Linked DNA regions of Homo sapiens: region 1 is linked to region 2. Evidence: fine-mapped expression QTL. A gene starts in region 2. The other region holds a variant in brackets. All regions are shown on one strand. Distances are between the middles of the regions.

Region 1 (2,905 bases), 210 kb after region 2:
GATTTACCAGGAACCCACCTAGTAATTTAATTTCATTTTTGCAGGGGAGGAAGAACTTTACCCCAACCCTCTCAGGATTTCTGGCTGGGCCTGAGAGTTAAGTTGACATGAGACAGATTTAACAGGAGAAAAGATATCAATTTCTACATGTACATGGGAGCCCCTATGAGAAAATGAAGACCCAAGAAGTGACAAAACCCACATATTTGTATACTAGGTTGAACAAACAGAAACAGTTATGGAAAAGCAGCTGAAATATGTGGGGAGACTAAAGGAAGAAAGGAATTATTTTAACAAAGTCTCTTGGTACAGAATTCTCTTGGCCTTGACTCCCTGTCTCTGGTGATAAGAATGTTTCTTTCCTCCTGGTGTGGGGAGGGCATTGTTCACATGGGAGTTTCATCTCCTTCTTTCAGGAAGAAAAGAGGAGGTCAGAAGTCCCCTCCTGCACCTGCTGTTTCCAGTTGTCTTTAGCTCAAAATAGTCCTTATGCTAAAGTAAGCATATTTTAGGATGGCTTATTCTGCCAGGCTTCACAGGTGAGGTATTAGGGAATTAGGACTTTGCCTTCTCATACTTTGGGGCTTAGCTTTTTATCATTTGCAGATTTTATTTTTTTAAGACACCAAAAGCGAAAGCCCCATATCTTTTAGCTCTAAAGCCCATTTTGCCCACCATTCATTAATTTGTTTACTTTGCATTAAGATGCCATTGTATTGTCATCCCTAGTCCCATGAAGCTGAGAAGTCTCAGGAAGAAGAGTGTTTGAGGGTGCAGAGTTAATTCACAAGAGCTTTGCCAGCGCTGACCAAGGGCACAGGGAGTGCTCCAGTGCTGCATTGAGTTTTCCAAGGTTGTTTTAGTTACGAGAGAGAAATAGGAATTACTAAAATTATTGAGCCTTATTGGTTAAGTCAGGTACCAATGTGCAGGCTTTTGTAAGTGAATGCTAGTGAATCTTTTGTAAGTGAATCTTAGAATCAATTATTCATCCTTTATGAACTTAAGTCATAAACAATTCAGTGATCCTTTTCTAATATCTTGAAAAAAGAAAAGCCAGTGAGCTTTTCCTCCTCATCTCCCCCACTCACAATCATCAAATTGTGCATCAGAAAGGATTTTAGAATCAAGTCTTTATGCAGGAACTGTTTTCTACAGTGCAGTTTGTACTCTTGAAGGTAAACACATATTCATGGTGCTGTGTGGATAAGTTTCTTTCACATGGGAAGAGGGGACCCATGTTTATCTAGACAGGAATCAGTTGATATGGGGAAATTTTTATTTCATCAGAATAAAAATTCTGTCCCTGCCCCATTGAAGAGATTTCTCTTCTTCTCCCTGAAACAATCCAATGGAGAACAGCAGAGTAGGCCTCAT[G/A]CTTTCGGATGACACCATATCTGAGACGATGCACAGGTGACCCGTGTGGGCATTTGCTCCCCCGGCAATGTCTGACACACTTCCAGTGACAATGCAGGTTATCTGGAGGAGCCTGTCTGGTGCATCAAGCTTCCTTCCATTCAGTCTTTCCTAACACAACCCATGCACCGTACTTCAAGATGTCAAGAGAGTGACTCAGTCTGGTGTGTGACTCTTCTTCGTGGGTTATGAAATGTGGCAAAGGCAGGCAGGCATGTTCTAATGTTCTTAGACAAAGAAAAAGCAGGCAGCATTTCTATATTATGGGACAACACAAAACTGAAATCGCTGAGAGTTTTGTGGTTGCTTTCCTACATAAGCATCCCGAGGTCCTTAGCCACCACTTTTGGTCTCAAGCTCCTGATAGGGATCCCGACCCTGTGATAAGTGCATTCTTGATCGCAGAGGTTGCAGATACATTTGCAGAGTTACTTTTGTTTAAAAATGCCCCCTCTTGTCCCTCTCATGTGCATGTGTATGAGTACTGACCAAACGTTGCAGTTTTCATGTTGTGGTATTTAAATAAAGGAGCTAATGGAAGTTAGTGACAATCATAGACAGTAGAAGGGACATCAGTGACCAGCCCTGGTTTTATAGATGAGGACTCAGGCCCTGCACATCACCCCTGCTGACAAACTCTGCTGCTTCAGCAAGGGGTCATGAATCACATGAACTTAAATAGGGGGACTCTGTCAATTAATTAAGAAATATTTTTGGCCCTCCTGCTATATTCAAGGCAATATAATGCTAAAACCTCCAACCAGAGAGTTTCCACAATGAACGTCAAATCCTAAAAATGCCGTTTTTTATGAGGTCCCTGGAATATTTTCTAGGGCAACATTTCTGGGGCAACATATACATACGGTTATCTATCCAGTTACCTATATTAAGAGAAAGAGATCTGGCCAGGCGCAGTGGCTTACGCCTATAATCCAAGCACTTTAGGAGGCCGAGGTGAGTGGATCACCTGAGGTCAGGTGTTCAAGACTAGCCTGGCCAACATGGTGAAACCTCATCTATACTAAAAATACAAAAAATTAGCTGTACGTGGTGGCTCACGCCTGCAGTCCCAACTACTCGGGAGGCTGAGGCAGGAGAATTGCTTGAACCCAGGAGGCAGAAGTTGCAGTGAGCTGGGATCGCACCACTGTACTCCAGCCTGGGCGAAAGTGCGAGACGACTCTGTCTCAAAAAAAAAAAAAAAGAAAGAAAGAAAAGAAAAGAAAGAAGTGTTTATGAGAGAGATCCTCTATTATAAGAATATGAAATTTAGAAAGATTTGCATCCAACGTGGCTCAAATAAAAAATGTTTTGGTGCTTGAGACGGTGAAAACATAAGGAACCTGGGAAAACTCAGCTATGCAAACTGGCTTTTCTGCCCAGGATCCTACAGAGAGGAGACAGTTTAATGTACTCTCATCATCCCAGATTCTGTTCTGCCTTTCAAACCTGCAATAAGAGAGGGCGTGTTTCCCAAACAAAACGTTTA
Region 2 (2,905 bases):
CATTTTCCATCTTCACCCTGGCCGAATGTGGGAAATGATCTGGTTTGTGCATAATCCGCGAGGCCCAGGGAGGATCTTTTGCCCCTATTGTTTTCTTGGGTGTTCTCACTCTGGGGGCCTGACATTCCTCGCGTGTCTAAGGCAATGAGGGAGCAGTGAAGCGCGGGGAAGCCGCACAAAAGACATCCAAAGGCTATCAATGGAAAAAGATCAATTAGGTGCACACAAGAAACACCCAATATGCCAGGGAAGAGAAAAATACCCTTTTCCAGAGGGTGGGAAATTGATTGAGCTTCTGTGAGGGTCCACAAAGAACTGGACGGATGCAGTGGTGGATGGCGATCTCTCTGGACCACTCCGGACGCGCCCAGCAGACGCAGCCTACGCCTTTAGGTCCTAGGAGGCTGAGAAGGGTGGGGAGAGGGGGGCAGCACGATCTTGTGTCTTTCCTCCCCGTGCCGCCTCTACCGAATCGCGGATGCTTCATTAATCTTGCAGGCGCCGCAGCTCGGGTCAGTATGGAGGCGGATCGGTGGCAGAGCCCGGGCCTCTGGGCTGCGCCCGCCCGTTCAGCCTGGCCCGGGAGGGGAGCGGCCGCGCGGTGGGCCAAAGACGCCCGGCCTTCCCTCCGTCTGCTTCCAGCAGGCACAGCCGGGAGGCTGGGCTCAGGGGCTGACCCGAATCTCCCCTAGAGCTGGGCCCACCCGGCTGCCCCCCGAGCAGCCTCGCCGCTCCCACGCCACCGCCCAAGTGACAGGCCCGGGAAGGCCGGACGGGACGCAGTCTTCCCGCCGGGGTCTTCCCTCCGGCTGGCCGGCCGCTGCAGGGCGCGCGCGCACACACGTACACACACACACACACCTGCCCACACACACACACACACACACACACACACACTGCCGCCTCCTTCCCGCCCCGCAGCCCTAGCAGCCCCCAACCCGCTCCCCAGCGCGCTGCGCCCCGGCGGCCTCCGCAGGCCCCGCCCCGGGGAGGAGAGCCAGGCGCGCGCGGGAGCTAGGCTCGGGGAGGGGCCGGCGGTGGGGGAGTGTCTGCTGCCCCCGCCCCTCGAGTGAGTGACTGAGCGAGGAGCTCCCCTCCCTCGCTCGCTCCTCGCAAGCTCCCGCTCGCTCCCTGCCCACTCCCGGGGGGACGTTCCGTGCCGCGGCCGCCGCGGCCGCTGCTTCTTTCACACTTTAGTTGGGAGCTGCGCGCCGCGCTCAGTTACTGGAGAGCTGGCCGCGCGCCGCCGCCTCCCGCACGCTTGCACGCGGGCCCGGCTTCGGGGTTTTGGGTTCTTACTCCAAGCGGCGGGGAGGAGGGGGAGCCCCGGACACACTGTGGGGAGGAGGAGGAAGAAGAGGAGGAGGGAGGAAGAAAAAAGACGAGGAGGACAGGGGCGGGGGGCGGGAGGCTTGCCACCTTCAGCCCCCCCGCGAACGCCCAAGGTAAGTGTGAGCCATTGCCTGCTCTGGGGCGGGGGGAGCTGGCGGTGCAGCCCGCCCCGGCTCGGCTACCCGGGCATCCCCGGGTGGGCAGGGAGGGAGGCCTGCGGGGTGTCTGCCGCACGGAAGGGATGGGAGCCGCGGTCGTGGCGCTGCCTGCGCGGGGCCCGGGCCGGGGCTGCTGCTGGTGCGGGGCTGGCGGGGTTGCTGCCAGGGACGGAAGCTGGGGTGGGGGAGCCGCGAGGGGCGTCTGCCGGCCTGGGCGGAGGGGCTGGGATGTGGTCGGGGCTGCTGACGACTTTCGTCACATCGAGGCCTGGGTGGCTGGTGTTAGACACCCCTCCCTTCCCACCCGCACCCTGCCGCCCTCAGCCTTCCTGCTCTCCTCTAGCTTTGCATGTAGCCACCGTACTTTGCAAGCCAGAGCTTGAAAGGAAAAACACAATTTAGGATCCTTTGCTAAGTATCCAAGTCCCTTCTCTCGCTCCGACTGATTGATGTGTTTGTGTGGGTGGTTTGACCCCCGGGATTTCTGAAGTTTTGACCTTTTTGGGGTGGCTCGTTTCGTTGCATCTGTTTGCCCACCTCGGTGTATTTATTATTCGTGCCCATGCGAGGCAGCCAGAGGGTGCTTGGTTATTGTACACGAAACAGATTTCACTCTCCTCTGCAGGCAGTTCGCGAAGTGCCGCCGCCGCGGCTGCCTTTGGTCTGCTGGTTAATGTCCTTTCCCTATCATCCACCCTGCTCCCTCCCTCTACGGAGGGTTAGTTTTTGTTTTTGTTTTTGTTTTTTCCTTTCCACTTACTGTTTGTGTGAGAGAAGTCCTGGGCTTAAGGGCTCTCAGCACTCGTTCATTTCTCTTCTAAAGCTCTGAATGGCTCAGGCATGTCGGTAAAATTTGGGGTGGTCCTCTTTGCTCCAAGAGTTGCATGGCCAAAGATAAAAATATGCACACATAAACACGCATTAATTCTGAGAGACGGCAAGCAGTTTGAGAGAGAAATAATTTGTTTTCAATAGGAAGTCGGTGACCTATGGGATCTCTTCCATTGCCGGTGGGTTAGGAAAATTGTTTTAAAATAGATAGTGCTTGTGTTGTCCGTGGCTGGAAGACAGCCATAGTTCAGTTACTGAAGCAATTCTGAAAGTGATACACCCTGGGCACCCAGAACCTCAGTAAAGACACACGTAGTCTGACTCAGATGTTAGGAAGGGGACTGACACACCATAGATTCCATGGAGTATTTTTTTCTTTCTTTTCTTTTTTTTTTTTGTAGGAGACTGTCCAGACCGTTTGGGGAAATGACAAGTTCATTACACAGACAGATGTAATGAACACCTCCCTATTCAAGGGGATGGGTTCAGCTTCTGCCTAATAGGAATAACCTTTTGATTTGATAGAATTGGAATGTACCAGGATAGAAACAAACATAGGTGGAGTGGGCCTGAGCTACTTCAGC

Evidence for each region. PIP is the estimated chance that this variant, and not a neighbour inherited with it, causes the effect.
Region 1: its variant is the best candidate, but not a certain one, in a credible set for the expression of C1orf21 in whole blood (TOPMed, PIP 0.55).

What each region holds. Positions count from the first base shown.
Region 1 is chr1:184,594,269-184,597,173 of GRCh38, forward strand. All of the region lies in intron 4 of C1orf21 (chromosome 1 open reading frame 21), which reads left to right. Among named protein-coding and RNA genes, the nearest start is that of EDEM3, 160 kb to the right of the region's middle. The variant G/A (reference allele first, on the strand shown) is at 1,378.
Region 2 is chr1:184,385,924-184,388,828 of GRCh38, forward strand. C1orf21 (chromosome 1 open reading frame 21) reads left to right here and starts at 1,106. Exons shown (of 6, transcript NM_030806.4): 1 at 1,106-1,445. C1orf21-DT (C1orf21 divergent transcript) reads right to left here and starts at 781. Exons shown (of 1, transcript NR_172919.1): 1 at 1-781. RefSeq lists silencers at 592-651, 742-851, 882-1,141.